Linked DNA regions of Homo sapiens. The protein of the gene in region 6 purifies or fractionates together with the protein of the main gene of each other region. This does not show direct contact. Each region holds a gene or a part of one and is shown on either strand. Other genes may lie near its edges.

Evidence for each region.
Region 1: the proteins of DBNL (region 6) and ERO1A fractionate together in Homo sapiens (co-fractionation; one large-scale study listed by BioGRID). This does not show direct contact.
Region 2: the proteins of DBNL (region 6) and USP20 purify together in Homo sapiens (affinity purification with mass spectrometry; 3 studies listed by BioGRID and IntAct, with this or other methods). This does not show direct contact.
Region 3: the proteins of DBNL (region 6) and CRYBG1 fractionate together in Homo sapiens (co-fractionation; one large-scale study listed by BioGRID). This does not show direct contact.
Region 4: the proteins of DBNL (region 6) and HSPBP1 purify together in Homo sapiens (affinity purification with mass spectrometry; 2 studies listed by BioGRID and IntAct, with this or other methods). This does not show direct contact.
Region 5: the proteins of DBNL (region 6) and P3H1 fractionate together in Homo sapiens (co-fractionation; one large-scale study listed by BioGRID). This does not show direct contact.
Region 7: the proteins of DBNL (region 6) and AGFG1 fractionate together in Homo sapiens (co-fractionation; one large-scale study listed by BioGRID). This does not show direct contact.

What each region holds. Positions count from the first base shown.
Region 1 is NC_000014.9:52,685,088-52,689,489, forward strand, and holds part of ERO1A (ERO1-like protein alpha isoform 2 precursor), read right to left. Parts: intron 1-4,402. UniProt on the Homo sapiens protein: Oxidoreductase involved in disulfide bond formation in the endoplasmic reticulum. Efficiently reoxidizes P4HB/PDI, the enzyme catalyzing protein disulfide formation, in order to allow P4HB to sustain additional rounds of disulfide formation.
Region 2 is NC_000009.12:129,838,267-129,842,668, reverse strand, and holds part of USP20 (ubiquitin carboxyl-terminal hydrolase 20), read right to left. Parts: intron 1-4,402.
Region 3 is NC_000006.12:106,366,616-106,371,017, reverse strand, and holds part of CRYBG1 (beta/gamma crystallin domain-containing protein 1), read right to left. Parts: intron 1-4,402. UniProt on the Homo sapiens protein: May function as suppressor of malignant melanoma. It may exert its effects through interactions with the cytoskeleton.
Region 4 is NC_000019.10:55,269,602-55,274,003, forward strand, and holds part of HSPBP1 (hsp70-binding protein 1), read right to left. Parts: intron 1-4,402. UniProt on the Homo sapiens protein: Inhibits HSPA1A chaperone activity by changing the conformation of the ATP-binding domain of HSPA1A and interfering with ATP binding. Interferes with ubiquitination mediated by STUB1 and inhibits chaperone-assisted degradation of immature CFTR.
Region 5 is NC_000001.11:42,753,290-42,757,691, forward strand, and holds part of P3H1 (prolyl 3-hydroxylase 1 isoform 1 precursor), read right to left. Parts: intron 3,167-4,402; coding exon of another isoform or gene 3,112-3,166; intron 2,349-3,111; coding exon 2,259-2,348; intron 1,929-2,258; coding exon 1,876-1,928; coding exon of another isoform or gene 1,808-1,875; intron 1,702-1,807; coding exon 1,580-1,701; intron 1-1,579. UniProt on the Homo sapiens protein: Basement membrane-associated chondroitin sulfate proteoglycan (CSPG). Has prolyl 3-hydroxylase activity catalyzing the post-translational formation of 3-hydroxyproline in -Xaa-Pro-Gly- sequences in collagens, especially types IV and V.
Region 6 is NC_000007.14:44,060,800-44,065,201, reverse strand, and holds part of DBNL (drebrin-like protein), read right to left. Parts: coding exon 4,286-4,402; 3' UTR 2,439-4,285; coding exon of another isoform or gene 2,272-2,438; 3' UTR 371-2,271; coding exon of another isoform or gene 190-370; 3' UTR 87-189; coding exon of another isoform or gene 1-86. Other genes in the region: PGAM2 (phosphoglycerate mutase 2), read left to right, coding at 1-86, 190-370, 2,272-2,438. UniProt on the Homo sapiens protein: Adapter protein that binds F-actin and DNM1, and thereby plays a role in receptor-mediated endocytosis.
Region 7 is NC_000002.12:227,519,973-227,524,374, reverse strand, and holds part of AGFG1 (arf-GAP domain and FG repeat-containing protein 1), read right to left. Parts: coding exon 4,312-4,402; intron 613-4,311; coding exon 450-612; intron 1-449. UniProt on the Homo sapiens protein: Required for vesicle docking or fusion during acrosome biogenesis. May play a role in RNA trafficking or localization.

The DNA.
Region 1 (4,402 bases), on a different chromosome or scaffold from region 6:
AAGCAAATCAATAATACTCTATTGAAATACTGAATTAAGATTCAGTATTTCAGAACACTGTAAAATCCTAAACTTTCTTTTGAGAATATCACAAAAGAGTAATGGAAATTTTTCACCTAAAAGAAATAAGAATACTTTGGATGACAACAGCAATATTCAAGAAGAACTTTTTACTGCTTTTCCCACTCTTACTTGTTTTGGACTAATTCAGTTTCTAGAAATCAGATCTACATATTTTGTCATGTAATAACTATTTTCATTTCATATGCAAATTTGTCCTTGTTTCCTACTAAAAATTCTCTGAATACACAAGAATCTCAGAGTCCTAATTTTGGATACCAACAACACAAAGTACTTCTAACCTAAATGATATGATTTTTCAAACTTTCTTTTCAACCTTAAGAGCAGAACTTCTAGGGACAAAAAATAGCTGTTTCTCCCCTTTGATATGAATTATTATGCAAAGAATGACAGACATAGAGACTGCAAAGGCCAAAGGGACATATGCAAAGTAGAGACATTAAGTTACAAAAAGAAACACATGAAAAACTTGAGAGCAAGTTTCAAGGCATCCATTCTTCCCCCTGAGGAATTCATTTTTAAGGTTAAAATATATCTTCAAGCCTCAGCTCAGTATCACCTTTTTCAGGAAGCTGTCCTTCCAGTACTCCTTACCACCCGCTGGGTTAAATGCCTCTCCCAGCTGCTCCCAAGACACTCCACACACTATTATCTAAGTATTACTGTACCTCACAGCAGTGAATTTATCTATTTTACCCCTGCCCACTAAAGTATAAAATCCTTGAGTGAAAAATCATATACTTCCAGAAAGCACACAGTAGATGCTCAATAATTATTTGTGGCCTGTAATCCCAGCACCCTGGGAGGCCAAGGCGGGAGGATCACTTGAGGTCAGGAGTTGAAGACCAGCCTGACCAACATGGTGAAGCCCCATCCCTACCAGAAACATAAAAATTAGCCGGGCATGGTGGCCCATGCCTGTTGTCCCAGCTACTTGGGCGCCTGAGGCAGGAGAATCGCTTGAACCCAAAACGCAGAGGTTGCAGGGAACCAAGATCACACCACTGCACTGCACTCCAGCCTCGGCAACAAAGTGAGATTCTGTCACAAATAAATTATTACTATTTGTGGAAGAGGTGGGTGAATGAATGAATGTTGTCCATTGTCACTCATCACTGGAGACCAGCACCATACTGTCTCATTAAACATATCTAGCACCATGTCACCTATGGTGTGCTCAGTGCCCCAGAGTACACAAGCACAGGAGGCAGAAACACACATAGCAAGTAAAGCAAGCAGCAAAGGTAAACACCTTTTGTGTCTATCATTCTTCCTATCTCTATCCTAATTACAAAGGAAGCTCTAAGAAGCCCCAAACCAGAAAGAAATGCAAAAATCCTCCAGAGCAGAGGTGGCATATAGCCAAGAGACCTCAAAGGGAAAGAAGGCAGGATAAATGGTAGATTGGTAGATTTTAAAATGTTCTTGGCCGGGCACAGTGGCTCACGCCTGTAATCCCAGCACTTTGGGTGGCCGAGGCAGGCGGATCACAAGGTCAAGAGATTGAGACCATCCTAGCCAACATGGTGAAACCCTGTCTCCACTAAAAATTCAAAATTAGCTGGGCATGGTGGCACATGTCTGTAGTCCCAGCTGCTCAGGAGGCTGAGGCCGGAGAATCGCTTGAACCGGGGAGGCAGAGATTGCAGTGAGCCAAGATCACACCACTGCACTCCAGCCTGGGTGACAGAGCGAGACTCCATCTCAAAAAAAAAAAAATGTCCTGCCCCTTCCTGAAATATGGAGTAGGAGATATTCTTAACTACAACCACAGGTAGCAGGGCTGCTAAGGGAGTATAAGGGTGGCAGGAGTTTCAATGGATGAAGACAGCTCAGTAAAGGAAAGACAAGAAGATTCTCGGAAATCCATGCCATCTGACAACTCAGATAAGCCTGCCAACCTGATCCCTGGGAGAGAGTCTGGCAAAGATGGTGGCAGGACCAGTTCTAGAAACCAGAGAACAAAGCATGTTACTAGAATAGAATCTCAGGCTCATGCCTGTAATCAGCACTTTGGGAGGCCAAGGTTGGTAGGTCTCTTGAGCCTGGGAGTCCCAGATCAGCCTGAGCAACATGGTAAAACCCTGTCTCAACTAAAACTACAAAAAAAAATTAGCCAGGCATGGTGGCATACGCCTGCAGTCCCCGCTGCTTAGGAGGCTGAGGTGGGAGGATGGCTTGAGCCTGGGAAGTCGAAGCTGTGGTGAGCTGAGATTGCACCACTGCACTCCAGCCTGGGCAATGGGAGTGAGACCCTGTCTCAAAAAACAAAAAAGAATAGAGCCTCAGGAAAGGGCTAAGGTAAAATACAGTTAATAGACACAGAACAGGATCCGGGAAACAAAGCAAAATCCTATTACCTCAACTAAGACCAAAGACAGGTGGCAACCTGGAACAGGGAGGACTGGATGTTGTTTCAGGATGTGCTAAGGCTGCCTAAATAACTACTACATGGAACAATGCGGGTAAGGGGGAAAATTACTACGCTATATCCCAAAGTAAAACAGAACTCTGACCTACCACAGGAATCTAAATTTTTTTAAATGCTAATGTGTTTTAAAGGTTAGTATCCTAACATTTGAGGCTAACTGCTCTAGGCTTCAAGTAATGATAGCTTTTGGTAGAGGGCCAATCTAATAAGCAGAGATAAGAAGGCCCCAGTTGAGGAACAGTAAATAGGAGGACCAAGGTAGGCCTGACAAGTAACATGGACCACTTCAAAATTCCAGCCTTCTGTTCCAGCATGGTGGCTCACACGTGTAATTCCAGCACTTTGAGAGGTGAAGGCAGGAGGGTTGCTTGAGAACAGGAATTTGACACCAACCTGGGCAACACAGTGAGGCCCTATCTCTACAAAAAAATAAAATAACTAGCCAGGCATTGGGTGCACATCTGTAGTCCCAGCCACTTAGGAGGCTAAGGTGGGAGAATCGCTTGAGCCAGGGAGGTTGAGGCTGCAGTGAGCCATAATCATGCCAATGTACTCCAGCCTAAATGACAGAGCAAGACCTTGCCTCAAAAAAATAGAAAAGAAAAAAAAAAAGTCCTAGTCTTTTAAGAGTTAGAAAGCCTTGGAAGGCTTTCTATTACAATCTCCCAAGCAAAACAGCAAATCCCTCCATTCACATCCCTCAAGGAACAGGTAGTGTGTAACAATAGTTAGCGTGTATGTTCTAACATCAGACCTCCTTAGGTTTGAATCCCATCTCTGCCAGTCATTAGTTTTTCACTTTATCCCAGCTATTTAACCTCTCTAGGCCTTGGTTTCTCATCTTAATAGAAAATAGTAATAGTTCTCATCTCAAAGAGTTGATACCAAGATAAATAGTACAAAGTAAATTGTCAGTACATGTTAATCATTATTATTACCCTACTTCTACTTAAATGCTTCCAATGAAAGGGAAGCATGTATTACTTCCCAAAGCAGCACATGGCATTTTCATAATGAATAAGAAAAATACAGCCGAATTTGCAGCTAAAATTTCCCAAAAATTTGACATCTGTAGCCCCAATGGAACAAAGAACTAGATAACCAACAGTTAGCTGTGGAGGGAGCCTCAATTACCTTCTCTGTTGACTCTGTTTGATTTGACCAAATGCAAAAGGCAGGATAAAGGAAAATTACCACGTACCGCTTGTTCACTACTCTCATGTCAGAGGTATCCTTTAATTTGCAATGAAAGACAAAACAACACTTTCTAAAGTTTTCTTGTATACCAATATATTCTAGTCTTATTATACATTACCATTTTATTTTTTCACACAAAGCACTATAAGAATATATTCCTCATATACTTTTTTTTTGAGACGGAGTTTTATTCTTATTGCCCAGGCTGGAGTGCAATGGTGCAATCTCAGGTCACTGCAACCTCTGCCTCCCAGGTGCAAGAGACTCTCCTGCCTCAGCCTCCCAAGTAGCTGGGATTACAGGTGCCTGCCACCATGCCCGGCTAATTTTGTATTTTAGCAGACACAGGGTTTCACCATGTTGGTCAGGCTGGTCTCAAACTCCTGACCTCAGGTGATCCACCCGCCTCAGCCTCCCAGAGTGCTGGGATTACAGGCATGAGCCACTGCGCCCGGCCCTCATATACATTTTTTATGAAATACCTTTTAAACATGCTCAAAGTGTGAATTAGGAAAGTGAAAGAAATAAAAGGTATCCAAATAAAAAATACGTAAAATTGTCTCTTTTTGCAGATGACATGATCTTATATATAGAAAATCCTAAAGACTCCACCAGAAAACCATTAGAATAAATTCAGCAAAATTACAAGATACAAAATCAACATACAAAAATCAATTGTGCTTCTATACACTA
Region 2 (4,402 bases), on a different chromosome or scaffold from region 6:
TGAGCCGAGATCACGCCATTGCACTCCAGCCTGGGCAACAGAGTAAGACTCCGTCTAAAAAAAAAAAAAAAAACTTCCACACACAGGACCTAAAATATCGGAAGCATGGGGGTCGACAAGAGGGTGCATATCTCAGCTGTCTGAAAGTTATCATTTTGCTTCCTTTTGGTACCCAACCAACACTGACCATGTACCTCCTTAGGAACAGTGACTTGGGGTGCTGGGAAACAGCCAGGCATAGGCCCTGCTCTTGTAGTGTACAGAGTCCCATACTTCAACCTCAGGGTACTTGCAAGCAGACACTAGGGAGGTGATAATCACCACCAGCACCTCTGTTTCCTACACTCACTGAGGGTTAGCTGCTGCACATACATTATCCCGGGAGGTAACGGTCACTATGGAAGGAAATTACAGGGACAAGTAGCCCTGGGTTCAGTACCTCACTCTGCCCCTTGCAAGTCTGTGACTTTAGATAAATCGCTCAGTCTCCACATTCATAAAATGGGGACAATGACAGCACCTAGGGTTACTGAGAAGATGAAGTGAGCCAATGCACAGTAAACGCTAAGTTGAATGACTTAGGGCCTCATGGACTTTCTGGGTGGCTCAGATTTTTTATTGATTTGCATGACAAGAATGCTCAAAAAATGTTTACTACTATAATTTGTGTCACTGGCTGTTCTATACATTAGGACACTGAAATTGGTAGGAATAGAAGTCACATGCTCAAGGTCACTCAGAAGGGCACCCTCCATGAGACCACTCAGGGCTCTGCAGGCCAACCAGCCCAGCAACGAACAGGCGCCATGGTGATGGAGTCAGACACACCGCAGGGGACTCATGCACGGATTCTTGGTGCGCTTCCTGAGATCTAAGCTCACCTCCTGGTGCTTTTGACATCAAAGAAAAAGCCAGGAAAGGCAACTTCATGGACTAGAGCAAACCCTTCAACAGCTTCCCTGTCCTGGGGCAGCCTGCGCTTCTGAACCCCCATTCCTGCTGAGCACCTTTGCTTCCCTGCAACGTGAAGGTTCCCTTTCTCCACCAAGGCTGAGAAACTGTTCCAGGCAAGACACTGAGGAGACATAACAAAGCTGGATTGTGGGTCAATGTGGGGGGATGCCACAAAGAACATCCCCAGGACAACCAGCATGCCTGAGTGTGGACTGCCTGTTAGATCATAGTATTTGTTATGGACTGAATTGTTCTCTCTCCCCCATTCATATGCTGAAGTTCTAACCACCAGGACCTGAGAATGTAATCATATTTGAAGATAATGTCTTTAAAGAGGTAATTAAGTTAAAATAAGATCTTTAGGGCAGGCCCTAATCTAATCTTACTGGTATCTTTATGAGATGAGAAAATCCGGACTCACACAGAGGAAAGACCAAGCCAGGACACAGTGAGAAGATGGCCATCTGCAGGCCAAGGAAAGGGCCTTCAGAAGAACCAAACCTGTCGGCACCTTGATCTGAGACGTCTAGCCTCCAGAACTGTGAGAAAATAAATCTCTGTCGTTTAAGCCACCCAGTCTGTGGTACTTTGTTATGGCAGGTCTGGGAAACAAATACATGATTCCATCAATGTGAAAGTTTCTAGGCCGGGAGTGATGGCTCACGCCTGTAATCCCAGCACTTTGGGAGGTTGAGGCTGGCGGATCACCAGAGGTCAGCAGTTTGAGACAAACCTGGCCAACGTGGTGAAACCCCGTCTCTACTAAAAATACAAAAATTAGCCGGGCATGGTTGTGGGCACCTGTAGTCCCAGCTACTCGGGAGGCTGAGGTAGAAGAATCACTTGAACCTGGGAGGCGGAGGTTGCAGTGAGCTGAGATGGCGCCACTGCACTCCAGCCTGGGTGACAAGAGCAAGACCCTATCTCAAAAAAAAAAAAAAAAAAAAAGTTTCTAAAGGTGGAACTCACGCTTTGGTTATGTATGATAATATCCTTATTCTTAGTTAATTCCCGCTGGGATATTTAGGGGAAAAGGACTGTGATGTCTGCAGCTTACTCCTACCTGAATCAGCAATAATTATGACAATAACTATAGAGATTAGAGTTAGAGTAAATAAGGCAAATGTTACTAATTCGTGAATCTAGGTGAGGGGTATGTGGGAGTTCATTGTATTCTTGTAATTTTTCTTAAGTTTGACTTTTTAAAAAAATAGATTCCCTTTCTCACCTTTGAGGTGGGAGCAGGGAGCGGGTTTTCTGGAACAGGCAGCCCCATCGCAGGATCCAGGACCCAGCACCCACTGAGCCTCCAGACCTGGTACCCAGGGCTTTGTTCACCCACTCTCTAGGGCAAGGGCGGCTGTTTCTCATCTCACAGAGGAGGAATGGAAGGTCCCAGACAGGAAGCAACACAGCAGGAAGCGAGCAGGTTGTGTCTGCTTTCCCCACTCTTTCCGTCCCACCTGTGCCTCTGTGCAAATATATGGAGTGTGCACAGCAGGCATTTCATAAAGGCCAAAAGGGAAAGACACCTGTGCAGCTGAAAGAACGTGCTTCCAGGTGCAGCCACGCAGAGTAGGACCTACTGTACAACAAGTCAGCAAGGTGCAGCGTGTGCCCCGCCCTCCCGGCCCACCAGAGCCTCCTCTCTTGGGGCAGGAGAGCACAGGATGGGGGGAGGAAGGCCTGAGACTTTTGGCAAAGAGCCCACCATTGCTGGCCCCAGGAGACCTCCAAGATGCTTCAGGCTCATAAAGGCAGCTTTCCTTCCCTGGGCCTCCAGGGTGGGGGAAAGTGCCACTCCACCCACAGGGGCAAAGTGGAGGGGCAAGGCCTGAGGAAGGGCAGGGGAGGGACCAGCCAGCACAGCCTGTGGTCCTAGGTAGGCAGCACATCTGGACCTGGCTGCCTCTGGTGCCTGTTACTCATTGTTTTCCCAGAGGTTCTGGCTACATCCTCCTCCTCCCAGCGAGGAACCAGTCCCTCAGGATGGGGAGGGCGACACTTCTGGGCCTCCCACCCACACAACGATGCCCACAGCCCTGCCCACGCTGACCCCAACCACATTAGCCATCTCACACCCCCAGCCCCGCACAGGGTGTGTGCCCACCCCCTCCACAGTCCCCTCTGGCCCTCGCACACCCTTTCTCTCCCTCCTGCTGTCTTTACTCTACCTCCACACAACAGCATTCTCCCTAAGTCCCAGACACACCCACCCCTTCCCTTAACCCAGTCCTCACTCGGAGGCCACCATCCTCTGACTCTCGAAGCAGAGCCCTCAGGCCTCCCCATGCCTCCACACTTCCACAGTCTCTGCTGCCCACACACTTCTGTGTCTCCTCATCGCCCTTCCCCCTGCCCCACGGCCCTGAATATTGGAACTGACACTAACATCTTAGTCTGGTGTTCTCACATGTGACCTCACTGGACCCTCACAACCACCCTGGGAGGTGGCAAGGTTCCAAACTAAATCCATCTCCATCACTAACAATGGAGACACCGAGGCTCAGAGAAGTGGAATAACTGGCTAAGGTCACACAGCTACTGAGCTGCAGAACCAAAATTCGAACCCACGACTACCTGCCCTGAAGCCCATGCTCTGAACACTCAGCTCCACGATGTCACAAACAGCCCCGGCCAGCCTGGCATGGGGACGACCTTCACCTCCCCAAATCCAAACACGCGTACTCCAAGGAAGCTTCCTCACAAGAGCCTCTTCTGAGTCATTCTTCAGAGCATTTTTCTGCTCAGCTTAACTTCCTTCAGTCTAGGATATGACAGTATCTCCCTGCAGCTCAAAGCCTGCTACTACCCTTTGCTCTGAGCTCTGTCCGGAAGAGTCCCTTAATTGGAGAAGGCGTGGGTTTGGGGCTACCCTAGGCTGCAGCCAGTCACTGGCCCAGGTCATTAAAAGCCTCACACTCAGTGGTGAGTAAGCATGAGCAGAAACTCAGTCTCGAAGCTCAGACTAGAAACCTTAGAAAAAACTCACATTAGAGATGCGGAAACTAAGAACTAGGAAAATCATGATTTCTGGGGCCTGAAATCAGATCCTCTCTTTTCAGGCAGCATGATCTGCAGCTGCCTTCCCCCATGCAATCTCAGAGTTTAAAGGGGTTTAGAAACCATGCATCTTCCCCTTAAGGCACAACTCTGCTCTGTAAAAGCCATACTGGGTTGTTCTCCAAACCCAGTTTGAGCAGTCGTTGATGATAAAATCACCCTTTTCCCAGAGGGCAGCTCTAGTTGCTACAAACCTAAGTCTTTATAATCAATGGAAATTGGCTCTCCTGAAATTTCTATTTATTGAGCCATGACTGCTCACTGGAGCCAAAGAGCACTGCCACTTTCCTGCCTTTAAATATTTGTTGTTAGCCGGGCACAGTGGCTCACACCTGTAATCCCAGCACTTTGGGAGGCTGAGGCGGGCGGATCACTCAAGGTTAGG
Region 3 (4,402 bases), on a different chromosome or scaffold from region 6:
TTGTTGGCTTTTTTTAGGTAGTAGGTGAGGTACTAATTATAGTAGAAACCCAGAAATTATCCAGTATGTCAATAACCAGACTATAGGTGCTGGCTGAATAACTAGTCACTCAATCTAGGGATCAGACAGTCTCATCGTTGTTAGTTTATGAAACTAAGGGAAGATTTCCAGGGGAATAGTCATCAGGAAGTCAGATGAGTCAGTTGGGCTCCTGTCAAAGGTGGGTACAGGCCAGGAGTGAAGGTATAGTACACAATGCAAGAGAACCCAAAAGAACAGCTAAGAAAAAATCAGAAAATCTGAGTTTTAGTCCTGCTTCCTCCACCTGCATTACCTTCCATGAACTTCAGTTTCCTTATCCTCAGAATGAGGGTATGGGCTTATTTCACAGAACCCTTATAAGCCTCAAGTGGGATAAAGTATCAGCAATGGTTTACAATCCTTGAAGTGTAAGGTCAATGTAAGGTGGAACCTGTATTCATTGCCAGGGAATCCTCAAGAATAAGTCAGGAGGTAAAACCAATGGATTCAAGCAGCAGGGCTTCTAGAGGCCTAAAGTTAGAGCAGCCAGGAGCAGCTTTCTGCAGCAACTGGTAAAGCAACTACTTGAGAAATTCTGCCATGCCTCTTTAGCATGGGCAGCAACTAGAGGGCCCCCCATCTACCACTTATCTCTGACCTTGCATTCTCCTGCCTGTGTCAGGGCAGAAGAAGGGGTACGAAGTAGGTCCACCTCTTGGTAATGCTTTTTTCTGACACAGCTTGGGCAGAAGCCCCAAACTCAGAATCTACACATGATACTTTCATTTATAATATATACTTTTGAATTTCTGTTTTAAAATCTTTTTTCATCTAAGATTTTAATGAACTTATATTTCTATTAATTAACATATTTCTTTCCACTATTTAACGTAGAAATTGTCTAGTACCAAAACTTAATTTATCATATGTATTTTAATTTCTACTTGTGAGATCTAGAGGCTAAATGAACTCATATAAGAATATAAAGAAAGCACCATTAACCACAGTGATTAACTTGCAGGGATTTACCTGCAGTGATTAACCACAAGGACTCAAGATCACCGGCTGGGGAATCCCAGCCTCACTCTTAATGAGCTCTGTGACTTTGACCAAATAATCATACCCCTCTGTGCCTGATTTTTCCTCAATATGGGACTAATAATAGTGCCTACCTCTGAGGAAAGTTATAAATTAACTGTAGTGGGTTAATATTTGTAAAGCACTTAGAACAGTGTCTGATACATAGTGCATATTGAATAAACTGCATCTCTCAATCAAATATTGATGGGAAACAATGTTTTCACAGACATGGTCTGAAGTTATTATAAAGCACATGCTTCCTCTATTTTCTTATCTTATATGCAGCATATATTATTTTGACCCTTGATCCTAATCATAAGATTAAAAAACGAATCCAAAGACTATCATGAGCTTATGCTACTACTTATAAACAAATTTGAAAAAAATTAAGAGGTGTACTCTGCATGGTGACTTTATGTAACTGTTGGCCAAATCTCATATTTGAGCTGTCGATATTACCTTTGGAATAAACCTAAATTCTAATGACTGAGACTCAGTTAGGGTTGCTAGCTTGAAATGGCACAAACAATAAACACAACCAGCAGCCAACTTTCTTCCCCACAGTATCTTTTGCCAAGCTTAACACCAACCTACTTTTACTCATTTAATTGCCATTTATGAGAAGGTAACAAACAAAAGGTACTTGTTAATTGTGTTTCTTTTTGTGTGTGTTAGCTATGGGTGCAACCTTTACTTGTCTATAACATGCCAGTGAGAGAGGTCGGGGACACTGCAAATGGATTCTGATTCTCTGCCCCATTTGTATGTCCTTGGGCCTCCTGGTACTTTGTCAAAATGTATGCTTTCATGAGATATTTATGAATCCATCAGTATTCTGAACACATTTAAATGACAAATCATGAATAAAATATATTATGTGTCACATTACTAGCATTACTTCAAGCTCTGTAAAGGGAGTTCTTGCATAGGTAACAATATATTGATAGGCTCCATCATTTTAAGTGACATTTTGTTGTTACAAATATGGTTCCTTCAAGCTTTAAATTTTTTTTGAAAACATGAATTAAGTTATGGTTGTTTATTTTTTTTTAAGTAGTAGGTGAGGTACTAATTATGGCAGAAACTCTTAAACTATTCAGTATCTCAGTAACCACACTATAGTATATACTGTATACTGGCTGAATAATTAGCAACTCAATCTAGGTCTCTGTTATGAGGGGTCATTGCTTCTCTTCCACTGAACGGAACAATCCAGAAGATGCACAGTGCTGTAAAGGCAGCACTAAGCAAGGGCTCACTCTCTAGAGGGAAGACTTCTCATATATTTGAATCTGTACAGGTATGTTGATGAGGCATTTGGGTTAGCCCAATGCAGCTATGTTTTAAGGCAACTGTAAATGAGCTAATGAGACTCATAAGCAATTCGCTGGTCATTCTTGCTAAGCTCCTCACAAGCATTAGACAGTCATACATCCTGTATCTTGAAAACTCACTTTGGGACAAGTTTTTCAAGGTAGACAGAAGAACACACCATTCAAGCTTCAAACGATCTTCTCATGTTGACCAGACACAGATTTTCAATACATAAATCACTTTTCTTCTGCATGGACATTCCTGAAACATAACTGACCCCTTAGCTGAACTCAAACTTTAAGACAGATGTGTGTGTGTGTGTGTGTATGTGTGTGTATGTATCTTTTTTAAGAGATGGGATCTCGCTATGTTGACCAGGTTGCTCTCAAACTCCTGGCCTCAAGTAAGTGATCCACCTGCCTCCACCTCCCAAAGTGCTGGGATTATAGGTGTGAGCCACCATGCCTGGCTCAGATATGTATTTTTAATGTTCATAGTAAGATATGTATTTTGAATGACTATTAGGAATTAGAAACTATTTCAATATCTAATATGTTTACTACATTGTTTTAATTGTGGACAAATACTACAGCAGCAACTCACTATCTCAGCTTACAAAAAAGATGTACTCATTTATTATTACGATTATTTTAGAGACAAGGTCTCACTCTGTCACCCAGGCTAGAGTGCAGTAGCATGATCATAACTCCTGGGCTCAAATGATCCTCCCACTTCAGCCTCCCCAGTAGCTGAGACCACAGGTGTGTGCCACCACACCTGGCTAATTTTTTTTTTTTTTTTTTGGATAAGCAGGGTCTGAGTTTGTTGCCTAGGCTGTCTTGAACTCCTAGGCTCAAGCAATCCTCCTGTCTCAGCATCCCAAAGTGCTGGGATTACAGGCATGAGCCACCATGCTGACCTAAAAATAAGATTTATAATCAAAAGCCATACATTCTGGCAAAACTATTAATGAAAAAGGGAGTATATATGTATTTGATTTTTTTTTTTTTTTTTTTTTAGACAGAGTCTGGCTCTGTTGCCAGGCTGGAGTACGGTGGCACAATCTTGGCTCACTGCAACCTCTGACTCCCTGGTTCAAGTGATTCTCCTGCCTCAACCTCCCAAGTAGACGGGATTACAGGCGTATGCCACCACGCCCAGCTAATCTTTGTATTTTTAGTAGAGACGGGGTTTCACCATGTTGACCAGGATGGTCTGGATCTCCTGACCTTGTGATCCGCCCACTTTGGCCTCCCAAAGTGCTGGGATTACAGGTGTGAGCCACCACACCTGGCCCAATATTTTTTTAAAAAAGAGCTAAAGAAGAAAAAAGAAGTGAACTCAAGTTTCGAAGGTCTTACTAAAGGTCCCCAAAAGGGTTTATGTCACTGCCACTTGATTATGGAGAGTAGATTGTGATGGAAAGTGTGGAAATAGAGGGGGGATAAAGTAATTCAATGACAGAGATAAGTGGCAAATGATTATCGTATGCTAAACTCAGACTCCAAAATCCCTTTGGGAAAAACTCCTGTAATGTCAAGTAGAAAGTTTAGCCTTGGCTTCCTCAGTGAGATATATTAAGACTTTTAAGGCACTGAGAGCGCATGAAGGGTCTCCCTTTTAGAGACCAACATGAACATCCAAATACTCAAAGGTACTTCAAAGCTTAACAGACCTGGTTACGACTTCTGGGCCTCTGAAGTTTTTACTCCACTCACAAAGTAACAATGTATGTATTAATACTACTACCATTACTATAAAGACAACAATAATTACAACTATCACTGCCAGTATTGCCCCTGCTACTGACCACCACCTTTCCTCTATCCAGCACTTGCTTTGAGCCAAGCCCTGTGCTGGGTGCTTTACATAGATAACATCCAATCCTCCTACAGCTCCATAAGAGAAGTGTAATTGCCTCCATTTTACAGGTGAAGAAACTGAGACTTAAAGAGGTTAAAAATCTATCCCAATGGCAGAGGCAGAT
Region 4 (4,402 bases), on a different chromosome or scaffold from region 6:
TTACTAAGCCAAAGAAGCCAGTCGGAAAAGGCTGCAGATTGCATGGTTCCAAGCATATGACATTCTGGAAAAGGCAAAACTATGGAGACAGTAAAAAGCTCAGGGGTGGGATGACTAGCGGGAGCACAGAGGATTTGTAGGGCAGCGAGATTCCTCTGTAGAATACTACAGTATGGATCCATGTCATGATACAGTTGTCCAAACCCATAGTACATACAGCATCAAGAGTGCGCCCCAGTGTCAACTATGGACTCTGGGTGACAATGAGGTGTCCATGTAGGTTCATCGATTGTAATAAATGTGCCACTCTGGTAGACTGTAACAAGGAACCACTTTGGAGTGGCTCCACAGAGGGCGAGCGAGTCCATCCCCTCCTGTCCTGGGAAGGGCAGTGGCACCACCGCCTCGGGCAGCAGGAGCTGAGGGGACGTACCCTGCAAATGGCTCCCAGCACGGAACTCCAGTAATGGTACTGGACAGCCACACAATGGCATACCCTGCAGCCACCAAAAAAAAGGACAGATGCCACTGAATGGTATACTTTAACATTTTCATGTGAATTTTACCCCCGAGCAAAAAAAAGAATGGCATCCAAGCTCCCAGAGCTCTTGCCCTGCATCGTGCACAACTTTCGCTGGGGAAGCCGACCACCACGTGGTGAGGCCGCTCACGCAGCCCGAGCTTCCTGCCAACTGCCAGCAAAACTCTGCTAGCCCCGGGGCGAGCCATGGTGGAAGCCCATCTCTAGCACCCCTTCCTCAGAGGGGGATTGTGAGGGATCAATGAGGTGCAGCGCACAGGGCTTAGTGCAATGAGACCTTCAGGGAACGAGGCCCGGCTGACGGCTGACCACAACCTCATGCAACCTCATGCAACCTCATGAAGACGCAAAGCCAGAAGCCGCCCTCCTCAGCAGGGGCCACTGCTGCATTCCTCACCCGCAGGAAGGGGAAAGATAAGCTACTGTTGCTTAAGAAAAAAGGACAGAGGCAGGTCAAGGTGCGCCACAGTCAGGATGGCCTGTGCCAGCCGTGCACATCTGAGGAAACGAGATTAATCCGTGTGTCTGTGTGCACACATACCACACACGACACACTCCACATAAGCACACACCACACACCCCGTATACACACACCACATCCACACATCCCACACACGCCATGCACATCCACACACCACACATACGCACCACACATACACACCTCATATGCACCCCACATACCCCACACATATACATACATCCCCCCAGCACACACATCCCACACACATACACATGCAACACACACACCACACACACCTCCACATATATACCACACACCACACAACCCATGTACACGCTACACTAACACACGACACGCCAAACACCCCACATACACACCATACACACCCTACACACGCGCCACACACCCACTACACACACACATCACACACACACCACACACACCCACATTTGTTCTTACAGATTTATTAAAATCTCTGGAAGCAGAAACAGGTATAACAGTGGTTTTCTCTGGAATGGGGACCAGGTTTGGGGACAGGGACCATTTGCTATGTACTCTTTTGTACCTGGTGAACGATGTGACTGTCTCACAGATTTTTAAAAATATGTAATGACTTTTTTTTTTTTTAGACAGGGTCTCACTCTGTCACCCAGGCTGGAGTGCAGTGGCACGATCTCAGCTGACTGCAGCCTCTGCCTCCCAGGCTCAGATGATCCTCCCTCCTCAGCCTCCCAGGTAGGTGGGACCAGGTGTGAACCACCAAGATGACCTAAAGACTTCTTTTTTAATGCAAGCTATTAGAAGAAAACTCTGCCAGCCCCTCTCTACCCTGCTCTGGCCCTCGGGACACCATGTCCTTCTCTCTGCCCTTTGTGGCCGAGCTGCCCCATGTCTGTCTGTCCCTGTCACCCTAGTTTTGGCTGTGACTTTCCAAGTGCCCCTTTCCTTGCCTCATCAGAATGCTTCCTTCTTCCGGAATCTCCTCCTACCCAAACCCTCCCTGTTCTCCTCCCAGCCTCTGCATGGCTGGGGCCACCATCTGCCAGGAACACAACACTGATTCCAGGACTCAGGATACATGGGGGTGAGGGAGAGAAAGAGGGTGTTGGACCCCCCTCACAGCCCCCATTTCAATGACCAGATAGGCTGCTGGAATTAAAAAATAGCCAACCTCAGGCCAGGCACAGTGGCTCATGCCTATAATCCCAGCACTTAGGGAGGCTGAGGTGCTCACCTGAGGTCGGGGGTTTGAGACCAGACTGGCCAACAGGGTGAAACCCCGTCTCTCTGTACTAAAAGTACAAAAAAAATTAGCTGGGCATGGTGGCATGTGCCTGTAAACCCAGGTACTTGGGAGGCTGAGGCAGGGGAATCCCTTGAACCTGGGAGGTGGAGGTTGCAGTGAGCCGAGATTGCGCCACTGCACTCCAGCCTGGGCCACAGAGCGAGACTCCGTCTCAAGAAACAAAAAAAGAAAAAAAAAAAAGCCAACCTCGAACAGATTAAATGTAGAGTTACGATATGACCCAGCAACTCCACTGCTAGGTATACACCCAAGAGAACGGAAAACAAATGTCCATAAAAACACCTGCGCAGCTATGTCCACAGGAGCACGAGAGCCCAGAGATACAAGGAAACCAGGGACTGTCAGCAGACAGGCGGAGGAAGAGGCAGGGCACGGTGGACCCACGCAACAGGACACATTCAGCCGCGGGAAGGAACACAGCACTGCCACCCGCCACCACTCGGGGACCTTGCAGCATATGAAAGGAGCCAGGCAGAAAAGGCCTCACGGTGTGGGATTCCGTTTGTACAAATGTCCCGGAGAGGGAAATCCTTAGAGGCAGTAAGTAGATTCATGTTGCAGGGGCTGCGGGAGAGGACGGACGCCGAGTGATTGCTTAACGGGTACAGAATTTCTGCTTGGGGGAGAGGATGAAGATGTTCTGAAATTTTGGCCGGGCGCAGTGGCTCACGCCTGTAATCCCAACACTTTGGGAGGCTGAGGCGGGTGGATCACCTGAGGTCAGGAGGTTGAGACCAGCCTGGCCAACAGGGTGAAACCCCGTCTCTACTAAAAATACAAAAATTAGCCGGGCGCGGTGGCGGGCGCCTGTAATCCCAGCTACTTGAGAGGCTGAGGCAGAACTGCTTGAACCTGGGAGGAGGAGGTTGTAGTGAGCCGAGATCGCGCCATTGCGCTCCAGCCTGGGTGACAAGAGCGAGACTCTGTCTCAAAAAAAAAAAAAAGAAAGAAAAGAAGAAAATGTTCCAAAATTAGATAGTGACTGCCGATAGCCATACCACCCCGAACGCGTCTGATCACATCTAAAATTAGAGAGTGATGATGGCTGCACAGCACTGAATACACTAAGAAGTACTACGTTGTTTTTCTGGTTTTTGTGTTTGTTTTCAGACAGGTCTTGCTCTGTCACGCAGGCTGGAGATGCAATCATGGCTCACTGCAGCCTCAACTTCCCAGGCTCAGGCAATCCCACCACTTCAGTCTCCTGAGTAGATGGAGGTACAGTCACGCACCACCACGTCCAGCTAATTTTTTAATTTTTGTAGAGACAGGGGTTTCCCTATGTTGCCCAGGCTGGTCTCAAACTCCTGGGCTCGAGCAATTCTCCCGCCTCGGCCTCCCAAAGTGTTAGGATTCCAGATGTGAGCCACCACGCCTGGCCAAGAGTACTAAGTTATACACTTTAAAAGGATGAATTGTATGGCCTATGAATTACATCTCAATAAAGCTGTTAGAGAAAATAAAAGGAAAGAGTCCAGTTGGGGCGCTAGTATAGCACATGCAGGCAGGCATCCAGCACATACGAAGAGCTCCACCAGGCTGGGATCCTGGCTCTGTGTGTCCTCTCCAGACCCCCTGGCCCGATCCCTCCCGTGTGGAGGAGACACAGTGGGCCCAACTTCAGCAGGTGTGCATAAGGATTCAGCGAGTCAACACCTGGCATGGAGAAACTGCCCCACAGATGTTGGTTTTTGTCCCGTCCCTGTGCCCGACCTGGTGCCTGTGTCCCAGGCGGCAGTATTTGGGGGAGTCCTGGCCAGCTCTGCCCTATGGAGCTGCAGAAACCTGGCCGTGTCCCTCTGCCCACACCTCAGTTTCTTCCCCTGTCAAATGAGGATGCAAACGGTCCCTACTTCACAGGCCATTAGGATAAAAAGAATTTGTGGCTGGACATGGTGGATCACACCTGTAACCTCAACACTTTCAGAGGCCAAGGCGGGAGGATCCCTTGAGGCTAGGAGTTCAAGACTAGCCTGGGTAGCAAAGCAAGTCTTGTCTCTATATAGGTTAAATGAAAAAAAAAAGAAGAAGAAGAATTCATGTACAGCAGGGGTTCTGACCAAGGGGCTTTCTACATCTAGGGGCATTTGTGCGC
Region 5 (4,402 bases), on a different chromosome or scaffold from region 6:
CAAAGGAATGCTGGACAAATTCTTTTCATACGCTAATCTTGTTTAATTAACCACTGTTAATTTAAGCAACTATAGGGCAAAGGTCAACATTTCTCTCTTACAGTTCTCATGGTGTTTCTCTGTGCTAGGGACATACTAATACTAGAGACTCAGTTCAACTCCACTTGATAACTGAGGCCTCAGTGTGTACCAGGAACTGTGCCAGATAGGGTGAGAGATGAATCCTAGAAGACAGTACCTGTTCTCTAACAATTATGCAAATAACTAGCATAAGACAGACCATAAATGCCCTAAGAAGTTCAAAAGAAAGGAGGGGACTCCAATCATCTGGGAGGTTAAGAAAGGCTTTACGGCAGGGCACAGTGGCTTATGCCTATAATCTCAGCACTTTGGGAGGCCAGGGCGGGTGGATCACAAGGTCAGGAGTTTGAGACCAGCCTGGCCAACATGGTGAAACCCTATCTCTACTAAAAATACAAAAAAATTAGCCAGGCATGGTGCCACATGCCTGTAATCCCAGCTACTTGGGAGGCTGAGGCAGGAGAATTCCTTGATGATCCCGGGATGTGGAGGTTGCAGTGAGCCAAGATTGCACCACTGCACTCCAGCCTGGGCAACAGAGCAAGACTCCATCTCCAAAAAAAAAAAAAAGAAAGGCTTTGCAGGGTATATCTCAGATGCCCTCATGGGCAGGGATGGTGGGAAGCGTACTAGGAGAGCCAGGCATAAACACAGACTGGTGGGCAGTGGGCGGGCTCACGGAACAAAGTGCAGTCCTGTGTGAAGAGACGGTGTAAACAGGACAAGAGTAGAACATTCGGTTAAGGGGCAGGCACGGAGGATGGGTCAGAGGCCAGTGTCTGGAAGACTGGCCTAGCTACCTTGTGTGGGCAGGGGCAAGGACAGGCCAGACGGGGAAAGGGTGGGTGCAGATAGGAGGTGCCAGGGCCTGAAGGAAGCCTGAGGCAATGAAAAACGGAAAAGGCTGGGGAGAGAGCTGAGAAGCACTGCAGAGCAGAGCCACAATCAGTAGGCCTTCCCAGCAGCTTGCAGAAAACGGGCACAGGAGGAAGAGGAGCCAAAGGAGGCCTGAAGGCGTTGAGTCTCAGTAAAGGGACGAATGGTGAAAACCGGGAGAAAACAGTTTGGGAGTGGGGAGACAGGATGAGTTAATACCTATGGAAGTGGACAACACTAGTCACTCATGTTTCTGTGACACAGAAGTCTCATTTCTTTCTTTTTTTTTAAAGATGAGGTCTTGCTATATTGCCCAGGCTGGATTCAAACTCCTGGGCTCAAGCGATCCTCCTGCCTCAGCCTGCCAAGTAGCTGGGATTACGGGTGTGCACCACTACATCCTGGAGTCTGATTTCTGAGCCAAAGGCTGATTCTCAGTGCTCTTTCCAGCTGAAAGTCCCGCTGGTGAGTTAGGAAGGATGTCCACTGAACTTGCACCCTAAGGGTGGCTGGCTCATGGTGAGCTCTGCAATGCTGGGGTGGAGCGCTGCCTGGCAAATGTGGGGTGACCTGCCTGGCTCCCTGACAACAGCCAGACATGCCCCTATTTCTGTCCTCTCACCTTCCCGGGTCAGTCTGCTCACATCCAGTGACTCCTTGGTCTTCTCTTCCACAAGGGTCTCGATTTCCTTCATAAGGTTCCCAATCTCCTGGGAGATGCGTACGGCTGTTTCCCGTTCTGACCTATGAGCACAGCCGCTCTGAGGACTGCATTCCAGGGCCAGCCCTGGGCTCCACCCCGACTTCCCAAACTGGACCTGCCCACCCCTTGCCAGGAGTTCACATCTGCCTGGGCTCAGGAAGCCTCAAGTGCTTCATCAGACTGATCCAACCATGCAGTTTCTTCAAGGTCCTCACTTCTGTTTCTCTTGCAATCTCTTGGGAATCACTTCTTCTGGAGTCCATGAATCCTAAGTAGGTCAGGAAGAAATGAAAAAGGTAAGATGATCTACTTAATCTTCCAGGTGTCTCAATGCATAAAATAAGGCCCACAGGAGTAATCCAGCTTATCACCCTCTTCCTTTCAGGAGACAAAATGGGAGGTTTCCACATCTAAGTCCCTTCTAGCTGCCCAGTGTTCCCCTTTCATCTGTCTCTCATCCCTGCCTTGCACAGATCCCAGGCTAGGCTCAGCCTCCAGCAAGTTTTCTCTCAGAATCGCACAGTGTTCCCCTCCTCCCCATTCATCTCTCCTGCTCACTCTTTCCCCGCTCCCTTCCGGCTCCTGTACCCTAGCTCACCGGATCCACAAAGGGAATTCCAAAAACATCATAAGCGAAGAAAAGCAGTTCTTTTTCCAGTAGGCTTCGCTGTCGGTACTCCTTGGCACTCTGAGGGTAAAAAAGCAAACAAATCCCCCAGAACTCAGCCCTGTCTTTTAACCTCTGGGAGTTCCCCTCCCTGGCACCCCACACTGATGCTCCCATGTGACCTGAGGCCTCCTCTCCCTACCAATGCTCTCTGTCTGTTCCCCAGTTTGAGACAAAAGTCTAATTTCTGTGTCCTCTGCCTGGCACAAGCAACAGTACCTCTGAGGTACTGGAATAACCAGGCTTTCCTTAAGGGAAAAAGCCCTGCTCCTCCCCCATCCCAACCCCCATTAGTCTCTAGGACAGATAATCTGATGATTCTCAAAAGTGGAAATATTCTTCAAAGAAGGAGAATTCCTTCTTGACTTCTACAGGAGTCCACAAAGCAGGAAAAGGAATCAGGCATTAGGCAACTGACATGTTATTCATTTGATCTTTTATAGCCACATCTGAGGTTGATACTAGTATGCTCATTCTACAGAGGAAGCATCTGAGGCACAGAGGAGATGTACCACTGTCTAAGGTGACACTACAGGACATGGGAGAGCAGCGACCTACAGTCAAACCCAGGTCTTCTGTTATCTTTTTCTTTTTTTTCATAGCAGAATGTGCATTTGGACAGATAAAGCCGGGTCTTTACAGTCCTAAAGCCCATGTGCTTTCTGCTCTGCCACCTGCCTCCTCTCAGACCCTAACCAGACCACACCCCTCCCTGAGGATAAGCAGCTAAAGGGGAGGGCCTGGCACTCTGGGCTTCCCACATGGACTCCCAGGCAAGGCTTACCCAGGGCAGGGAAACTGAGTACTTTCCGGGGTCACATCTTTCCCTAGGTGCCCTGCTAATCTCCAAGCAGCAGGAGGAGGAAGGAAGAGAAAAAGGAGACATCAGTTGAAATAAAACATGAGGCAGTTCAAGGAGGAATTAAAGGAGTCAATGAATCCTATGTCATCTACTATATTTACCTAAGAGGAAGAGAGACGTTTTCTCTTCAGGAGTTTACATTACTGGCTTCTGTCACCAAATGCTATGTTATCTCATTTAACCCTCTCCAATGACCCTATAAGGCTGCTATGAAGCAAACCCCACTTCCATCTTTATTCATTCGATGCTGATTTACTGAGTGTCAGCCATGTGTCTGGAGCTGTGCCTGCACTGGGTCCAAGCAGGGAACAGATTCCGGTCACCACTGACTGGCCACAAGCCACTGCACAAGTTACTTCATCTCTCAGATGCTAACAGTCCTCATCCCTAAAGTGGGAAGAAGAGTGCCAACCTTGCAGGGTGGCTGTGATGATTAAATGAGATGATGGATACAGCCCACCCCGCACAGAGCTTCGCCTGGACAGCGGCTCAACAAATGTTAGTTGCCTTCTTTCCAAAAGGGGACTTCTAGTTAAAAATGCTAGATTGGCCACGTGGGTTTATTTCCCCTCACTCCCCTCAGACTCCCCTTAATGGCCATAAGGAAGGCAGGGAAAAGGTATTAACCAAACAAGACAAAAGAGACCGGAAGTGCCATCTTAAAGCCAGATGGTCACCATCTAGTGGCTAAAGAGGACAACTACAATGACAACCCACACAGGAGGGGCAGCAAGAGGCTGTTTCTACTGGAGGCTCTCAGACTCCAGAGCTCGGAAGAAGAGCCTGGGTGTCTCCTTTCAGCGCAGCAGTCTTTGTGTTATACAGATATTTCTCCTGGTTTTGGAGAGAGACAGGGAAAATGCTGAAAGATGGGAGAGAACAAACAATGGCAGGAAGAAGAAGAGATGGGAAAGAAAATGGAGACAGAAAACAGGTGAGCAGAAAAAAAACAACCAGTATTAAGTGAAAAATGATAGCTCTTGGCCAAATAATATCGAGTGTCCAAGTTAGGGGTGCCAAGAGGGGAAAGAATATGCTCACCGCGCAGTTCTGCGGGACTCAGAGAATAGACTTCTGGGCCCAGATAACGCTAATTGAGGCTCCTGTGTACTCCCCACACTCCCTCCCTGTGCTCCCTTCTCCTCTGAATAACAAGCCGAGTGACTGAACTCACATCTGGCCCCAACACTGACATCTGGCCCCTGCCCTGCAC
Region 6 (4,402 bases):
AGCAGGTGAAGATCTGGAGGCGCTCCTTCGACATCCCGCCGCCCCCGATGGACGAGAAGCACCCCTACTACAACTCCATTAGCAAGGTGGGCTGCCTTTGCTGGGAAGGCCTCTGGGAAGCTGCAGAGTGGGGAGTCGGGTGGGGGCCCACTGGCTTGGGAGGGAAAGCAGCGTGCCTGTGTCCCCCAGGAGCGTCGGTACGCAGGCCTGAAGCCCGGGGAACTCCCCACCTGCGAGAGCCTCAAGGACACCATTGCCCGGGCCCTGCCCTTCTGGAACGAGGAGATTGTTCCCCAGATCAAGGCCGGCAAGCGAGTGCTCATTGCAGCCCACGGGAACAGCCTGCGGGGCATTGTCAAGCACCTGGAAGGTGAGGCCACCTTCAGGAGCCTGGGCAGGGTGGGTGGGCAGCAGCCCCAGCTGGCTTCTCATCTCAGCAAAGTCTCTCGCCCATGGACCAGGCTTTCTAGGCGTGGGGCTCCACATCATTCACTGAAAAAGGAGGGCTGAGAAGCCATTTTTTAGTTTTGTGAAATTTTCCCCATTTCTGTGTAACTGGGACACACTCCACAGGGGCTGACTGCACTCGAAGCTCGCTGTGTCCCGAGGTGGGGCAGGCTCCAAAGGTGGCATCTGCCAAGGGACACCCAGCTAGGAAACGGAAGGGCTGGGCTTAGAGCATCTGGCTCCAAATCCCAACTTACTGTGGGGCCCTGGACAAGCCACCTCCATCTCTGGGCCTCTCCCTTTTCCGGGGTGGTGGGGAGCTCCCCCTGGTACTGAATTCCTCTTGATGTAGGCTTGGACCCCTCGCAGGGCCCTCCCCCATCAGGTCCTCAGAATCCCTGCATGAGCTTCACCACCTATCTCCCTCTGGAGCCCCTCTCTGGGCAAAGGAAAGACCAATCAAAAGAGGGGTGCAGGACTATGGAGTGGCCAGACTCTGGGCTTGCAGCTGGGCTCCCACTGAAGAGCAAGGGCTGACAAATGGGCCCGGGATGCATGGGCGCAGTAAGGCCTCGCCCAGAGTGACTGGCACCTCCGCTCCGCCTCCCACCTTAGTATTCTGACACAAGGGCAGTCTAAATTAGCATCTGAATGACCTTAAAGCTTGTTGAGTCCTGGAAAGGCTAGAAGGGTGTGCCCCAGACCTCCTGCTCCTAGGGCCGTTGGGCAGTTGGCCAGAGCACCCAGACCGGCAGGCCCCGGAGACCCAGCCAGCCCCAAGCCTGCCCGCTCCAAACACGGACACCTGGCACCTGGCACTGGGGCCAGGCAGAGGGAAGGACCACCTGCCTCCTCTCCCTTCCGGAGACTTCATGCAGCCCCATGACCCTCCCACAGCCTGGTTTGGGGAAAGGGGACGCACTTTTGGTGGTGAATATGAGGGATTTCACTCTGACTCCCCAGAGAACATTTTCTTAAACCCTCCTGCACGGAGCAGGGGTGGAGTGGCGCGAACATCAAAGGTCGAGCTGCTATTCCCAGCTCAGGGGCTGCAGGAGGCAGGCAGGGTCAGGTTTCGACCAGGCTCGGCCTCCCTGTCCCTCCTCCAGCTCCATTCCGCACTTGCTCCTCTGTTCAGGATGTCTAGAATTTAGAGCACTTTAGAAACCAAAGGGTGCTGGGCACGGTGGCTCACTCCTGTAATCCCAGCACTTTGGGAGGCTGAGGCAGGCAGATCACCTGAGGTCAGGAGTTTGAGACCAGCCTGACCAACATGGTAAAACCCGTTTCTACTAAAAATACAAAATTAGCCGGGTGTGGTGGCGCTCACCTGTAATCCCAGCTACTTGGGAGGCTGAGGCAGAATCACTTCAACCCAGGAGATGGAGGTTGCAGTGAGCCAAGATCGTGCCACTGCACTCCAGCCTGGGCAAGAGGAGTAAAACTCCATCTCAAAAAAAAGAAAAAGAAAAAGAAAAGAAAAAAAAAAAACAAAGGGTGAGTGTCCCTTCCTGACCCTCAACTTCAGTCTGGCTGGAGTCACACTGGGCTGAGGGAACTATGGACAGCACCACCACAGATCACAGCCACTTGGGTGGGGCTGAAGTCCCCATTTTTTTCACCACTGGGCTATTTCTGTAGGCTGCTTGGTCTAACTCAGTTACTCCTTGACCTTTGGCAACATTTCTGTGGCCTCGTTCTCAGGGCTGGGAAGGAATTGGTGCCAGGGGAACTGGCTCTGTGGACCATAAAGGTCACATAGTGTCTGCTGTGTAAACAGGCTGGGGACAGAGGGGCTAAGGACACCTATTCCTTCCGGCATAGGGATGTCAGACCAGGCGATCATGGAGCTGAACCTGCCCACGGGGATCCCCATTGTGTATGAGCTGAACAAGGAGCTGAAGCCCACCAAGCCCATGCAGTTCCTGGGTGATGAGGAAACGGTGCGGAAGGCCATGGAGGCTGTGGCTGCCCAGGGCAAGGCCAAGTGAGGGGTGGGCTTGGGCAATAAAGGCACCTCCCCCAACAGCCTGGAGTCCAGCGCAGCCGTGCATGCCAGGCTCACACCGCCATCAGCTGTGGGGACTCCAGAACCAGGGGTGCAGCCACCCACCCTCCCCCACTCCATACGTGTGTCACCAGGGGCAGGAGCCTAGTACCCACACCTAGTCATCAGGACACTGAGCCAGGGCTGCAACCACTCCATGAGTTTGCAGTCAGGACAAGCCTGTGGTGACCCTGAAGCTTCAGAGCCACTTAGTAACCATGCTCCAGAATTGGCGTGCTTGGGGCCAGTTAGAAGAGGCCAAGTGACCCAGCTCTCCCCATGGGGAGCAAGGACCACAGCCCAGGACACGGCTTCCTGGACAGCTTCCTGCAGAGGGCAGGTGGTCCTCTGCTGTCCTTGCAACCCCCGGGTGGCACTTTGAGCCCTGCCTCTTGGGTTGGGACAGGCAAGCCCACAGGGGGCCTCAAAGCTGGCAACAGCCCAAACCTGGGTCTTCCATGGGAGTGGAGGGGAAGTTCCCTCTTCATGGGAGAGGCACCAGGAAGCCCTGGCGAAAAGGGGAGAGGCCTGAGCACAGGAAGGCCAGGAGCAAGGTTGGGCTCCATGCAGCCTTCACCCCAGGCACTAGCAGGTAACACCTTGAGTCAACCGCCTAGCAGTCTGCCTAGCAGCTCTGGGGCACAGGAGGGACCTAATTCCCCGGATGCTCAGTGGGTGCCAGGTACCTGACGCCACACAGTGGGCCATCCCATGTAGGCAGAGGCTCCCTGAAGCTGGGAGCAGGGCAGCCCTTGGCCTCTCCTAGAGGAACTGGAACGCAGGAAGGCTCCAACTTCAGTCCCATCTTAACATTTAGCCTCTTCCTGGTGGCTGATCATCATCAGCCACAGTCTCAGGGTGAGGGTGCTCACCCCAGACACGGAGCAGAGGCAGACACTGGGCAGGTGGTGGGGTGCTATTCCCACATGGGAGCATTCAGGCTACAGCAGGACAGGTGAGAGCTGCGAGCCTGTGTAGACCAAACTGGGAATTCGTGGTCCAAAAGCATATTTGTTCTTCAGAGACACGGATGAGCTGGGACAGAAAATAGGGGAAGACAACAGGCCAAGGCCACTCTGTGTTACTTTTCCTGAAGTCAGAATCAGTTGAGGCACACACTGGGGCCTGCAGGCATCGAGTGAGCCGCGTGGAGGAACATGTTGTGTCTGCCGTTTTTGAATACCCAGGGTGGGAGCTTGGCCATCTGCATCCCCACTTCCCATAGCCCAGGCAGAGGGACAGAGAAATGGAGTGGGGAGCACAGAGCAGGCTCCAACAAGACAAATTCCCTGCTGCCAAACCACCATGATCCACTCTGACTTTGGTCACAAACTCTGCTAAAAACAATTCTCTACGTTCACTGTTCCCAAGGGTCATTCTAAACAGTGGTGGCCACCACCCCTTAGAAGCAAGAGAAAAAGAAAAAAGGCAAATAAATGCAGAAGGCAGCCAGAGCCTCCCAGATGCCCCTGCTCAGGACCCTTCCCCGCAGCTTGGCAGTGGCCACTCAGGGCTTGGCCACAGGCAGGGCTTGGCTCAGTATCCTGTCAGGGGCAAGAGCCAAGCTGTCTGGGAGGGTCGGGGGATGCAGGAAGGATGTGTGGGAATCACCAGGCCATTGCTGCATTTGGGGTGACAGGCTGAGTCTGCCAAGCCGGAGGGAGCCCTGAGGCCTCATCCTCACTGGGGGTCCTATTCCTGGAAGAGTGCTGAATGTCAACTCCCAGGCCTCCTCTTCCAGCAATAAGGAAGCCATGTCTGAGAGGGGAAGGGCAAGATGTGCCCTCAGCCTCACTCAATGAGCTCCACGTAGTTGGCAGGGAACATGCCAAAATGGCCATCCGGCCCATAGCCACGCCACCAGCCTTCGTCGATCACCTCGATGCCCGTGATGAGGTTCTCGGGGTC
Region 7 (4,402 bases), on a different chromosome or scaffold from region 6:
CCTTGTGTTTCAATGATCAACATGCTTCACAATCACACATGTGGGAAAACTCTACTACTAAAGAAATCCCTTCCTAGAAAAGTGTATCAAAGAGACTATACATTCTAACTCTGATGGTCACCATAGATTCATGTTTTACAAATTGTATAACACATGATATATACATGTATACACACACACACATATATATAGCTATAGCAACATTCCTGTATAACTCACCTTTACAAAGTTGCAGAGAAGTCAAAGAAACTCATATTAGCAATAGCAAAAAGAACAAGTATATATACATTTCAACCACTTAACCAACAATTTCTTAATGTATAACAAACCATTGGAACATAATGCTACTGGCATACAAGATTATGCTGCTGTCTTAAACAATTCTCAAATTCTTGATACTCAAGCCCTCTTTAAGTCGAATTCCCTACAAAGATTCAAAGACTACTCACCTGACTAGGTGTGCCCTTATTTAAGTGCAGTGTTGGTGCAGAATCCCCTAAAAGAGATTTCAGTGGTTTGACCTCAGGTGTGCTGCTTGTGCTACTGGCAGAGGACCCTGAAATAGATGCATGAACTGATGCCACGACTTTGGCTTGTTCTGGCGGGACATACCTAAAACATGTAAAAAACAGTTAACTAAAAAAAAATGTAGGTAATTCTATATCAAAAAATGATAAGCTTAATTCTAACTTTGTACAAGATTGTTTCACCATTAATCTTATCTGAAAACCCTCTCACACAGAATAACTTTGCATATTTTTTAAAAAAGGAACGACAGCTTAAGACTACACCCATTAAATATTTGAAATACTCAGAGAAAAGAGAAGACTAACCACAAAACTTGTTTCAATTACTTATTTATGGTTTTTCTAAGATATTAAGTACAATATAAGAAATAACTGCTTTTTTTAAACAGAGGACCTACAATTAGTCATCACCATGAATAGTTCATACTATAATTTTTAAAATTATCTTAAGATCTAAATAACATTTGAAGAAAGATGAGGTAGGAAAACATTTGTAATATTACAGTTAACAGCCTAAAATATAAAGGCTTATTACATCTGTAAGAATAAGATCATCCCATTTTAAATGAACAAAAGAAGCAATTCACAGAAGACAGGAGACACAAAAATGAAAACACTTTTAACCTGACAAAAATGCAAATTAAGGTTTTATTCACCTATGAGCTAAGTGTGAACTTTACAATTTTTTATTGCTACCTACTAAAATATATAAATAGGTGTGCTTTGTGCACCAGAAGTGCCACTTCCAGAAACATCCTTAAGAATTGGTAAGTGTATACAGATGCATGTACACATGGATGTTAACCACAGTCCTCTCTTTATAATTTCACAAAAACTGGGAAACAAACCCAACATCTATCAAGGAAAAAAAATTTACGATAATACAATACTCATAGCTACTCTGCTTTGACATGGAAAGAGGAAACTTCACAGGTCTTTCAGATTTGATTCCAGTCATATAAACACATGATTTATGTGAGGAGGCGAGTCAAGAAAGGAGAGGTAGCAAGGATATAATAATGTCCAAACATAGGCAATCCTGACCTCTAGGTGTGGGATTATGTGAGAGCTTTTGCTCTTTGTAATTCTGGGTTTTGTCCTACCCTCCTTCTTATTCCCCATATGAAGTAGGTGAGGAAAGAAGGAAAACCATGCTTAAGAGCACCTGTTCCAGAGACAAGAGTTCAAATCCCAGCTCTACCACTAAATGGCTGTGAAACCTTGGGCAAACTATTAATACTTCAACTCTTTGTGCTTCCATTTTTTTCATTTATAAAATGGAGAGGCAGAGTTGCCTAGGTTTAAACAAGTTAACATTTGTAAAGCACTGAGAACAATTCCTGGTATACGTGTTAACTAAGTGTTCACTGTCACTAAACTACATAATAATCACAAACAACTGCTTTCAAGTAAATGGGAGAGATAAAAGATGTATGAGAATGAATACAAGAAGTTATATTTTCCCATAATTTAGCATACTACTAATACAAATTCTTCAGTATAGCCAAGTCTTATCAAAGGATAAAATCAAATGATAGTTATTGGTTCAAAAGACTCACCTGGCAAAGTAATATGCTACCATATTTTTACTATCAACCCACCTTCTAGGATTTTCTTCTTTCCTGAACTTAAATTTTACTGGTGTATTTTAATCTATTTTCATACCTGATGTCTTCTAGTATAACACAGAAAGTGATTTTGAGAACTGGTCAAAAGAACAGTTTCAAAATCCCTTTGGATAACACCATCATCACTGTTTTAAGTATAGTTACAGTGAGTATTTTTAGAGATGCTGCATCTGGATAGTGCTTATTCCATGTTAGAAACCAATTTCACTGCTTGCTAGCTGTATGTTACAGGTGTGCAGCAGTCTGGATTAAAAACATACAGGTCCTGGCCCTCTTAATGATGGTCACCTGTCCCACCACTTGAAGTCTCTATTTGTATAACTCTTATTATCCTGTTTCTCAGGAAAGAAAAAAAATAACATAAACTGTAATTATTTGAGGTTTCTAGGTATTTGCGTTATAGTTTGAATGAATAATACATTACTGTTATAAATGTGGGGGTAAGGATCTATGATTTTAATTCTACCAACTGTTACTCACACTCACTTTTCTGTTGATAGCTAGAGCTGACCATAAACTAATCCCTAACCAAACTCACTTTCTGAATTGGTAAAAGTAACACGGCTGAGAAAACAAAACTAGGTTAGGGCTATGTAAGGAGAACAGTCTTTCCTACAGGGTAGAATGTCTAGGAAATTCAGAACCAAAATGATAAAAGGATAATTATACCTTTCATTTTAAAAGAATCATTTATGCTACCATATTTTTACTACCAACCCACCTTCTAGTATTTTCTTCTTTCCTGAACTTAAATTTTACTGGTGTATTTTAATCTATTTTCATACTTGATGTCTTCTAGTACAGCTGAATATAGCCCTGACTAATCTTGCCTTGCAAAAAGTAGTCTATTTTAGGCCGGGCACAGTGGCTCACAACTGTAATCCCAGCACTTTGGGAGGCTGAGGCAGGTGGATCACCTGAGGTCAGGAGTTCAAGACCAGCCTGGCCAACATGGCGAAACCCTGTCTCTACTAAAAATGCAAAAAATTAGCCAGGCGTGGTGGTGGGTGCCTGTAATCCCAGCTACTTGGGAGGCTGAGGCATGAGAATTGCTTGAACCCAGGAGGCGGGGGTTGCAGTGAGCCGAGATCGCACCATTGCACTCCAGCCTAGGTGACAAAAGCAAAACTCAGTCTCCAAAAAAAAAAGAAAAATGTAGTCTATTTTGGAAAGTAGTAAGAATACAAATTTTGATAGAGCATGCAAGTCAGAGCTAATGTGCTCCTGAATGAAGGTAAAGACCTCTGCTGTAAACCACAACAAATGTTCCCTCAGGACCAAAACAGGCTCTGAACAGATTCTCTTGGGTTGAAACAGAGTTCCTCAAGCAAACAAGAAGCTCGTTACTTCCCCATTATTTATTCCCTCTATTTTGACTCTCTGCCCCATCTTGTTAACCTCCCAAGATGAAAGTATCCACTATGCAATACTATTAAAGAAATAACCAAAAGTTCATAGTTAATGAGTCTTAGTAACTTAAATTGTGCTCATATAGCTAAAAATGAAGAACCCTCAGTAGCTGAACACTAGCTTTATAGATATAGTCCCTATTCCATAGCAAGGGGCTTACTAGCTATATGTACAACCTGTTGGAATTAATTTTTAAAAATTAACATCTGATAGATTTAGTTAGGGAAAAGTAAATGCTCCCTTCTTAACCAGAAAGTAAACTGATTTCTTAGGTCAAAAGAAAAAATATTTTGAGCAAAGGCTACAACAGACAATTAAGTAGATGGATTACTACACCAGAGCTTTAGCATAGTGCCTAGTATACAGAAGATGAAACTCAATAAATTAAAAAAAGATATGACTCAGTAAATACTTGCTAAATTAATGATTTTTAAGAACGGAGGCTTTGTAGGGCAAAACATATTTAAAGAAGCTAACAGAGATAGGGAATGATTAGAAGGAAGAATCCCTAACTTTCCTGGTAATTATTACAACAAAAAGCCTGCTGCCAGGAACAGATGAGTTAAGATAAAGTAGAAGTAAAGGTTTTCAGAAACCAAACCAACAAAAAGCCAAGGGATAATGAATTATATACCTATCTAGTTCTCACTGTCTGTCTTTTATCCTTCATTGTGTCAGACTAACCTTACCCATAGTTAATATGTGATTTGGGGAGGCTTTATTCTACATACAAACTCTTCACTCACCATCTTTTCTTTTCATACTTTTCTTGTAGAAACTCTTTCACTTTTTGTGGATCCCTGAAGTCTGGAATTGCTGAAGATCTATCATCAAATA